Linked DNA regions of Homo sapiens. The protein of the gene in region 1 purifies or fractionates together with the protein of each later gene. This does not show direct contact. Each region holds a gene or a part of one and is shown in the gene's direction. Other genes may lie near its edges.

Region 1 (3,752 bases):
ATGTTGCCCAGGCTGGTCTCAAACTCCTAGCCTTAAGTAATCTGCCTGCCTCCACCTCCCAAAGTGCTGGGATAACAGGCCTGAGTCACCGCACCCAGCCTCACCACTGGCTTTTGAGCAGGAGAGTATCTTGGTAGTGAGCTTCAGGATCAGGAGTGCAGGGCTAAGTAACGGGCACTAACTTAGCCCCCAACTGAAGCAAGGCACAGTGAGGCTGGTACAGACCCAGGCTAGAGGGGCTATGGGGTAGGCAGGGCCTCCTCCTGAGCCCTAAGAATAGCCAGTTGGGCTCACATTCAGCATGAGGAAGGAGGAGGTTGGCATGGCAATCCTAGAGGTAGCTGGGTGACCTCGGAAAGGAAGAGCCTGGAGGTCAAGGTCTGGATCCTGATCAAAGAAAACCGAAGCGCAAAGAAGGGCCAAGGCTTGCCCAAGTCACCCAGAGGGAGTGTAGCCCAGGAGTCAGGACACAGGTGCACCGGTGTCCCTGCAAAACCTTCACCGTGCAGCTGGGGTGGGGACCTGGCTGCCCTCCAAGGAGCAGCTCCCTCCTGCTTCAGCAGAGGCCACTTGTACTACCTGCAAGCTGTATTTGGGCTGATGCGGGAAGGGCCCCAGTGAGGCAGAGAGCGGGGAGACCATGTTAGGACCTGTCTGGTTTCTCCCTTTTGCTGCCTCTCCATCTTTCCCCCAGGGCTGGAAGAGCACATTCCTGAGTCAGTTTTCCCAGGAGTCTGGATGGGGCCCAGGCAAGAGAGAGCACCGTCTCCCCATTACCAACACTCTCTCTCTATCCCCCACACACACCTCCTTGCTTTCCCTTAGAGCTCTTCAGAGGGTATGGCTGATGCAGGACAGGCCTATCCAGCTGCCTGGCTCAAGGAGAAGCTGGCCAGCTTTCCAGCCTCATGTTTTCTGGGCTCTGTGGCCAGGGAGGCCCCTCTCCACCATGCTCTGCCACTTGGCAACTCTGGGCCAGGCCCAGGTCCTCTCTGGGCTTCAGGTCCCTCATCTGTGAAATATGACGGCTTCATAGAGCACTTCCAGTGACTTTGCCAGCCTTACCTTTTGTAAGCCCCACACTGCCCTGCAAGATGGTACTGTCATTATCTCCATTTTACAGAGGGGAAACAGGTTCAGAGAGCATGAGTGGCTTGCCCCAAGTCACCCACCCAGTAAGTGGTGGGCTTGGTACTTGAACCCAGGCAGTCTGACCAAGCTGCTGCCTGAGGTCTTTGCCATCATCAATATGCCATCAATTGTCAGGTCAGGCAGGGATCATTTTCCCTTTTCTATAGATGGGAAAACTGAGGCCCAGAGGGGCAACATGTCTTGCCCAAAGGTGCAGAGCTCAGGTGGGTCTTGCGCACTGCATAAGGCCACGTTGCCATGTCCTTGAGCACCTCCACAGAGGAGCAGCCACCCCAGGAAGTAGCTGCAGACTCTACGGGGTGATACCCTCAAAGGGTGACCAGGGCATGACCGACAGCTCGAAGGAAGCAAAGAGGCTGCTGCTGGTGAAAGAAGAAGTGAAGTGAGAGTGTGGTGCCTGGGCCTGGGGTGAAGGGAGCAGAGAGAAGTGCAGTGGGGGTGCAGGTGTGGGGCAAAGGGAGAGGCCACCCACAGACGCCTCCCGACTTCCCCTTCTTCCTGCAGAAGCTACAAGACAGCAGCCGAGACAGCAGCTGAGACGGCAGCGGCAGCTTCTCAGGTCAGCCTCCTCCGGGCCTCTCCCCACTCTCCTCTGCCCAGTTCTCTGTCCTTATCCACAGGCCCCTCAGTGGGCACTGGCCATACCCATGTCCAGGTGGGCACAGACCTGGTGATATCCTGGTGAGCAAGCTGGGGACCCACCCTCCTTCCCTTTCTGGTTGGCAGCTCCACATCTGGGGCAATGTAGAGATCTGTGCTTTTGGAAGGAGGGGCAATTTAAATTAAGAAGTGGTTAGGCATGGGTCTCGAATCTTAGCTTCCCCGCGAGGTCTGGGACAAGTGAAGAGAGGTTTCTTTTCTGGACCTCAGTTTCTCATCTGTAAAATGGGGTGAGTCTGGGAACCTGCACCTTGGATGGCTGTCAGGGGCTCAGTAGAGGACCTGGCACACAGTTTGTGCTTGGCAATCTGGAGCAGGTGCAGCTCCTTTCAGAGTGACCTGGATTGGATCCTGGGGACAGCATGTCTCAGGTAAATGGACCTGCTGCTGGCTTGGTCACAGACTTCCTGTTGGGCTCCAGGGTGGCCTCTCTTTCCCAACCTGGGAAATAGGGTTACTATAGCATTTCTTAGGGCTTTTTTTTTTTTTTTTTTTTTTGAGACGGAGTCTTGCTTTGTTGCCCAGGCTGGAGTGCAGTGGTGCGATCTCGGCTCACTGCAACCTCCACCTCCCAGGTTCAAGCGATTCTCCTGCCTTAGCCTCCTGAGTAGCTGGGATTACAGGCACCAGCCAGCATGCCTGGCTAATTTTCGTAATTTTAGTAGAGGCGGGATTTCGCCACTTTGGTCAGGCTGGTCTCGGACTCCTGATCTCAGGTGATCCACCTGCCTTGGCCTCCCAAAGTGCTGGGATTACAGGCGTGAGCCACCGTTCCTGGCCTGTTAGTGCTTTTTTGCAGAGACCACAGGTTGATTGATTCCTCACCCAGGCCAGGGGCAGGGGCTCCAGACTGTGGTTGGCAGGGGCAGGTGGGGCTGTGTGCGGAGAATGGCTGGCTCAGTAGGCCTTCGTGCTGCTGGGGAGAGGTGGGCTTCGGGGGTGCATGGTCAGCTGTAGGGAGGAAGGCAGGGGTTCCCAAGCCTTGTGCTCAGATGTATTCCTGGCCAAGGACTTTGATCAGAGCCCTGGACCTTTCTCAGGGCCTGATTCCCAGGAGAGGATCAGGGAAATTGTTGTTTGAATTTCTCTTTCTGGGAAATAGATTTCCTTGGCCTCATTTTACAGATGAGAAAACCTGAGACACAGAGAGGTCAGGTGCCTGCCCAGTGTCACACAGCCTAGGCACTGAATACTGCAACTGGTTATCAAATTCTCATCTTCCAAAGGCTCTGTCCTGTGCTCCACAGCTCCTCATTTCTCTATTGGCCTAAATAGAGTCTTACTTGTCTGCAAAGCAACTCAGCTGCCCAACCATCTTTGGGAGGCTGCAGTGTGCAGGGGGTAGTGCCCTGGACCGTGGAGGCCTGGGTTTGAGTCCCAGCTTGCCCACTGGCCTGCTGTAGAACCTCAAGCAGACTCCTCTTACGCAGTATTCGGTTTCCCCACCATCAACTGGAACCATCCTGGAAGTCAGATAAGGGATTGCTGTTTCCTAGAAGGCCACAAATAATGAATTGCAGGGTGGAGAATGAAATGGCTCAGCGTGTGGGGGGATGGTGCATGGTGACCTCTCTGAAGGGATGTGGAGGGGAATTTGGAGGTTGCAAGCAGAAGTGAAGACTGTGGTTTGCTCCTGGGAAAGGGGGTGGAAACCACAGCTTCTATCTGGAGTGCCTGGGGGAGGTATCACTTCTGCTTTGGCCTCAATTTCTTCAGTTGTGTGGTAGGGTCAGGCTTTTCTTCCCTCAGTGCCTGCCTGGAACCAGTGGGGGTAAGAGCCTGGTCTTACACCTTGCAGGTCAAATCCATCTATCTCTCTGGGCCTCAGTTTCACCAACAGTATAGTGAAGGGGTGGACAAATTGGCCCAAGATCCTTTCTGTGCTGTCAGGTCCTCCACTACTGGGCCTGAGTTATCTCTCCTGAATGAGTTCCTTCAGT
Region 2 (3,752 bases), on another chromosome or scaffold:
GATCATGTAACCAAAACACTTTTGAAGTTTCTACTTTTAGTGAGTTTCACAAGCTCAGGGGAGAGTGTTCAGTGAAAGGAAACAATCTCTTCTCATCTTTCTTCTCCCATCATTTTTTTCTCCTATCTTCAGAGTACTGTATTGTTGTCTCTTTATACTAAAAACAATTCTGTTTATTCAAAAAAAGTACCTCAAGAAGCAAGTATAGTGTTTCCCAGGTATTTTCTTAAAAGTAATTTCATCATGTCTTTTCATGTATATATTCATGTCTATTTTCCCACTTAAGATTGGTCCCAATGTTTTCTTTCTTTCAGAGAGAACATTAAAAATGTTAGGAAACTGAGGTGCAAGGATTGCTGGAGGCCAGGAGTTCGAAACCAGCCTGGGCAACATAGTGAGACACCCATCTCTACAAAAAAATTTAAGAATAAGCCCCACATGGTGGTGTGCTCCGCTTGTAGTTCTAGTTACTGAACTCCCACCTCGGCAACAGAGCGAGACCGTCTTAAAAAAAGTATGTGGAAGAAAAAACATGCACAGTAGATTTAGTGTTATTGTGATAACCCTAGCACTTCAGTGGAAAAAATATAAACAATTTCAATGAGTAGACAATAACACATATAACCAAGATTTCAAATATACCTTCTAGCCCTTTTGAGAAGTCAAAATTGAACAACCTGAATGTACCAGCTTTTTTGAAAAAAGTTTTGTAGACACGCGATCCCCAAAACCTGCCGTTCAAACAACTCCAAGGGTCTTTAAAGTACTAAATCCCTTTGTATTTGTCCTATCGGTCCCTTTGGTTTCCAGGAAAGCATTAAAAATAAAAATAAAAACTCTCTGCCTTAATTTTATTTCACGACTTTCTTTTCTCTTATTATAGCTTTCCACATTGCTTTAGAAGAGTTTACATCTAACTCTAGTGGTCTTCGGCTTCTTCTCCCTCTTTGACACAGAGGACTAGTTTCAATTGTACAAATAGGCTGGACGCTTCAGCGATTATCTTCCGACCACTCCCTGTGTGCTCGCGCGGGCGGAGTAGGGGGCGCTTCTCCACTCTCCGCGACCTCAATGTATGCGGAAATCCTCCTGCCTTTGTGCACACGTTTATTTAGAAAATTCTCTCCACCCCCACTCCCGTCCGTCCCGCCCCTTCTTCTTTTGCTTATTCTCTGAGTTTTGCCTCTCCTCCCACCCCGACTCCACCGTAATCTTAACCTACCCGTACAGATTCCACTTTCCCACTTCGGAGCTAGAGTAATTTAAGATCCCCCCATTATTAGCTCCACGTCGCCTTTAAAAGCCATTCAAACGAGTTCGCCTTCCAGGGTTCTGCAGTTGTGCTGCAGCAGCATTTCCCTCCTCTCCAGTATCAGACGTTAAAACAAAGCAAGCCACAGTGTGTGTCCACAGACGACCTTGGAACGAAAAGCTGCCCTGTTTGGGATCAATGCTCAGGGAACCCAGTCCACTCCCGCACTCACGTGTTCCCGCCTTGCCCTCCAGCTAGTTCCCCCGCGCGCAGGATCGCACTACTCCCTCTGCAGTCTCGCCTGCCGACTTCCTTCTGCGCGCCTCGTAAAACCGGGGAAGTTCAATCATTCCGCAGCGAGCCGCGGCGGCCGCACTGGGCATGCTCAGTCTCCGGGCTCCGCTCGGCAGGCGAGAGGCGTCCTCCGGCTCTGGGCTCCGGTCGGTGGGTGCCTCGGCTCGGCTTTCCCCGGCGCTGGCTGGGCTCAGCGGCCCCTGAGCCCAAGCGACACACGCCCCGCGGTCCCCGATCCGGCCCCTGGGAGAGCCGCGCCGTTCTGGAACCCGGGAGCCCCCAACTTCGCGCCAAGTTCGGAGCCGCCTTCTGAGGGAGACATGAAAAAGATGAGCAGGAATGTTTTGCTACAAATGGAGGAGGAGGAGGACGACGACGATGGGGATATCGGTGAGCGAGGGGTCCCCGCGTCCCCACCCGAGAGCCCGAGCCGACGCGGGAAGAAGTTCGGGGACTGCGCGGGGGCGCTGTGCTCTCCGCGGGGGAGGTTGGCCGAGACGCTCGGCCGCTCCGGGCAGGGGAGGAAGCCCGCTGTCCCCGGCTGCTTGCAGACTGAGGCCCCGGTGCGGCCCCTGCGGGGCTGAGGCGCGGGGCGCGTGGTGGCCCCGAGGACAGGCTCCTGACGGGCGGGGGATGCTGCCCCTGAAAAGCCTGGCAGCTGCGGGGACGCCTCTGCGTGCGGAAGTCTCCACTCAGAAGCAACTTTGGGGTCACTTCCCCGACTCGCAGAGTGCTAGGGTTGCCCAGGAGCCTCGGCACTGGGGCGAGCCCCCTGGGCGGGGTCCGGGGAGCAGGCCCGCATTTGGAGGACAGGGTGTGACCCATCTGAATCCTCGTTAAAGTAAAAGCCGACCGACGGCTCTGGGAGGTTTGAGGCCTGGCGGGGCGGCCCCGGGAAGTGATTTGTGGCCGCTAGGCGCGCGCTGGAAACCCTTTCCCATCTGCGGAGCCCACCGGAGCTGTGATCGGAGGAGGAATTCCCCCAGGCAGGGAGGACCGCAGGGCCTTTTTCACTCGTCCTGAGGGGCCCTGGGGCTTGGGGAGCAAACCTGGGGTGACCCATTTCTAGTTAGAGTTAAAAATGCATGGAAGTGACAAGACGAACGGAGGGAGAGCTGTTTTAAGAGCAAAAAAAGAAAAAAAGGGCAAACAAAAGGGATGAGAGGAGGTGAGGAAGGGGAAAGGAATGAGAGGACTAGAGAGAAAATCAGGTCCCTAAAGAGAACACTGTCGGGGGATGATGATATAATGTGTCCCTCCAGAAGACTCTAATTAAATTACCAAGCCAGTCTGTTGTGGCGACTCGGCTTAGTCTCCTGGATGCCAAATCAATTTTAAAGCAGAACATCCTGCTGATGTTCTAAAGCCCTGTTGTTATCTAATAACTTTAAAAGTAACTTAATTTTAGGAGTTGGGTGTGGTTTTTATTTCTGTTACATTTTGGGCACGGAATATTTCGATCAAAAAAATTTGGTAACTTCTTGGTTGTCCAGGGACAAATCGAATAGAGGAGATTACACTCCATGATTTAGTTTCACATTTCATTCATTCATTTAAGAACAATTTACTAGTTATTCATCTTTAAGGAGAGAGCAAATAGTAGTAGTTTTTATAGGAGAGAAAACTGAAGCGCACAGGTTGGTCTGCCCAGCTTCTCACACTTTCAAACCCAGGTTTTCTGACTTGTAAAACCAGTGAAGATTAATGCTCTTACCACTGGGTCACTCTGGCTGTTACTACTGTTTAGCAAGATTAAGTAGTACCTGATGATTACATAAAAATATAGGAGTGAAATTTAAAAAGTTACAATAAAATTGACACAGTCTGTTTCCCAGGAAAGTATTATTGTCTTTTATGGTGAGCTGCACTGTTTATAATGAGTATTGTAAGTAAATAAGGGCAGAAGCTCAAATGGAAACTGAAGTAAGCAAGAGGCTCTGAGCTTTGTTTTACTGTGCCAGCAGTAGATCTCAGTTTAGAAAGTAATTTGGTCTAGTCTGTGTTTACCTATTGAGGCATCGTATAAATTCATCTTAAGCGTGTGGCAGTAAGCTCTTTTTATTTTTAATGACATGTCATTCATGCTAGTTTTGTCCAGTCAAACAGTGTAGATAGACTTAAGAAAAAGTTAAATATCTCTACTCCTCCCCACCCTCTAGAAACTACTAATACTAATACTTTAGTGTTAATATTAGTAGGGCATTTC
Region 3 (2,565 bases), on another chromosome or scaffold:
TATCTAAGGCCAAATTCACTAAAAACATCAGGATTGATCAGAAGGATTTCAGTGACAGCAGAGCTTTTTGCAATGAAATAATACTAAGCAATAGTACTTGTTTTATACCCCTTTCCAGTCGTGGAGCACCGACGGAAACCATCATTATAAAACAGTATTGTTTTTTATATTAGTAAGGATGAGGTTTTAAAAGACGTAATTGACATTAAACATGATTGAAGCCCTAATTTTGACCAAACGATATTTACTTCATGTTTTGAGAGATGATATTAACAGTAACAAGGATACTTGTACACAGCTTTCTTCCAAAAATGATCATGCGGCTAAGTTGCCAGGAGCAATAGTACCAAAAGATAGTTTGGGACAGAATGTGAAGATTTTCAAATTAAATATTAAAAATGTTTTCTCTTTCTGAATGGCTTAAAGTTCTTAATACATTAGATATTCTGTGGTAAAGAATCCATATCTGCAAGTTATTTAAAAGGTATTAGTACACAAGAGTATAGGTATATAAAACTAAATGAAGTCAATCATATTGATTATCCCCCCAAAAAAAATATAATCTAAAGAATAATCAGTTCCTAAATAATTGAAAGCTGCCCTTACAAAATAAAACAAAAGAACACACATTTCGTTGTGTTGCCCAGGCTGGTCTCGAACTCCTGGGCTCAAGCAGTCCTCCCACCTCGACCTCCCAAGATGCTGGGATTTCGGACATGAGCCACCACGCCCGGCCAAAGCTGCCTTTTTTTAACATGGATTTTTTTTTCCCCCATTCGTTGTGCTCAGAAGTCATTTCCTCTTATTTTTCTCTGCTAATGTGTGCTTTAACAAACCTGTTTAAAACGACAAGCCTTTAATCAACTGGGGTGTTTTGTTTTGTTTTTTTCTTATTTTCTTAGGAGTCAGTGGATCGGTGGGGAAAATGCTGCTTACCCTGGGCCCTGGGCTGTAGAAAGAAGACACCAAAGGCAAAGTACATGTATCTGGCGCAGGAGCTCTTGGTTGATCCAGAATGGCCACCAAAACCTCAGACAACCACAGAAGCTAAAGCTTTAGTTAAGGAGAATGGATCATGTCAAATCATCACCATAACATAGCAGTGAATCAGTCTCAGTGGTATTGCTGATAGCAGTATTCAGGAATATGTGATTTTAGGAGTTTCTGATCCTGTGTGTCAGAATGGCACTAGTTCAGTTTATGTCCCTTCTGATATAGTAGCTTATTTGACAGCTTTGCTCTTCCTTAAAATAAAAACAGAAAAATATATCGTCCTAACAGTTAAATTAACAATCAATCCATAAAGTCCTATATCTTCATTCAGCAACCCAAATATTACATACATTTCCAGAATTTTCTTGATTGTTACTTTCAGTGATATTCTTTATATTGGGTACAGGAGAAGTTTGGTGTTTGGTAGGTTTTTCAACATTAGTTTTTGAGACTAGTTTACCTCTTCACATTTATGCTCACAACCCTCTTGTTAGAAAAGTCTGTGTTTATATACAGGCTGTAAGTTTGTGATTGATAAAAAGAAGATGAGTGTTAATTAGCCTCCAGTGAAAATATACTGAAAGCCTGTTTTCATTTGATTCCAATGTTTCTTCCAAAGAATTCTGTATAAACATATGCCAATTCCCTATGATGGTCTAGAGTTAGGAATGAGTGTTTATGGTGTTGCTTATAGAACAACTCAGGTAATCTCCATTTCTGGTTTTATATTTTCTGTACAAACTGCCTGGGTTTTATTTTTCTAATCAGCAAGGTGCTTCACTGCCTTCTTGAGACGCCTCTCAAAGCTCTTAAATGGCTCCTGTGCTATGTGTGGTGTTGGCAGTCTAATTTGCTTCTGTTAAATGTTGTAGAACCTTTTTCACTAGGAAATAAGATTCATTTCTTTCGGCAGTAGATGTAGATTCATCTTTTAACGTTTCTTCAAATTTGTTTCTGTCAGGCTTTGTGTTATTTTAAATGGTTTTTTAAAATTTTCTTCTATGTTTTCAATTACCTAAAGACATAGGATAATAGTTTTTTTTAAGTTAGAATTTTACCTCATAAAATTTTTTGAGGTTTGATGTATGTCTCTGTCTTATCAATAATGAGGCTTAAAAAATACTGGATTTGAATGGCTGCCGTTTTTTCAAAGCAATATGAATTTGATGAGTTTGTTTTATGCCATTAGGTGGCGCCAGAGGTCAGAACATGTCTATTTTGAATTGGATCGTTACAAATGAGCATATTTGATGCGGAAATTTCTGGGAGAAAAAAAATTGAGGAAATAAAGTTAAAAAATTGACATTCATTGAGCCAAAAGAGATGTGGAGAAACATTTTTCACCTTTCTGTTTGGCCTGATTAACATTTAAATTCTTGCCAAAATTAAGGTAACTTTTAAAAAACACCTTTTATAGGTGGATCCAGCAGTCTGGCAACGCCCACAGTTACCACAACACAGAAAACTGATCGTGCTATAAAATGGACGCTAAACTATGAAAACAGTGTGACATTGTTCTCTGTTCTTCCAGAGCCAGTAACATGCTTGCTCGTGCTTTCTACTTCTAGCTGA

What was found.
Region 2: the proteins of ADGRG5 (region 1) and ANO6 purify together in Homo sapiens (co-immunoprecipitation; 3 studies listed by BioGRID and IntAct, with this or other methods). This does not show direct contact.
Region 3: the proteins of ADGRG5 (region 1) and ATP13A3 purify together in Homo sapiens (co-immunoprecipitation; 3 studies listed by BioGRID and IntAct, with this or other methods). This does not show direct contact.

The regions. Positions count from the first base shown.
Region 1 is NC_000016.10:57,540,991-57,544,742, forward strand, and holds the start of ADGRG5 (adhesion G-protein coupled receptor G5 isoform 1 precursor), read left to right. Parts: upstream 1-1,652; 5' UTR 1,653-1,656; coding exon of another isoform or gene 1,657-1,711; exon of another isoform or gene 1,712-2,067; coding exon of another isoform or gene 2,068-2,183; intron 2,184-3,752. UniProt on the Homo sapiens protein: Orphan adhesion G-protein coupled receptor (aGPCR). Ligand binding causes a conformation change that triggers signaling via guanine nucleotide-binding proteins (G proteins) and modulates the activity of downstream effectors, such as adenylate cyclase.
Region 2 is NC_000012.12:45,214,456-45,218,207, forward strand, and holds the start of ANO6 (anoctamin-6), read left to right. Parts: upstream 1-1,639; 5' UTR 1,640-1,866; coding exon 1,867-1,936; intron 1,937-3,752. UniProt on the Homo sapiens protein: Small-conductance calcium-activated nonselective cation (SCAN) channel which acts as a regulator of phospholipid scrambling in platelets and osteoblasts.
Region 3 is NC_000003.12:194,404,454-194,407,018, reverse strand, and holds part of ATP13A3 (polyamine-transporting ATPase 13A3), read left to right. Parts: intron 1-902; coding exon 903-1,100; 3' UTR 1,101-2,565. UniProt on the Homo sapiens protein: ATP-driven pump involved in endocytosis-dependent polyamine transport. Uses ATP as an energy source to transfer polyamine precursor putrescine from the endosomal compartment to the cytosol.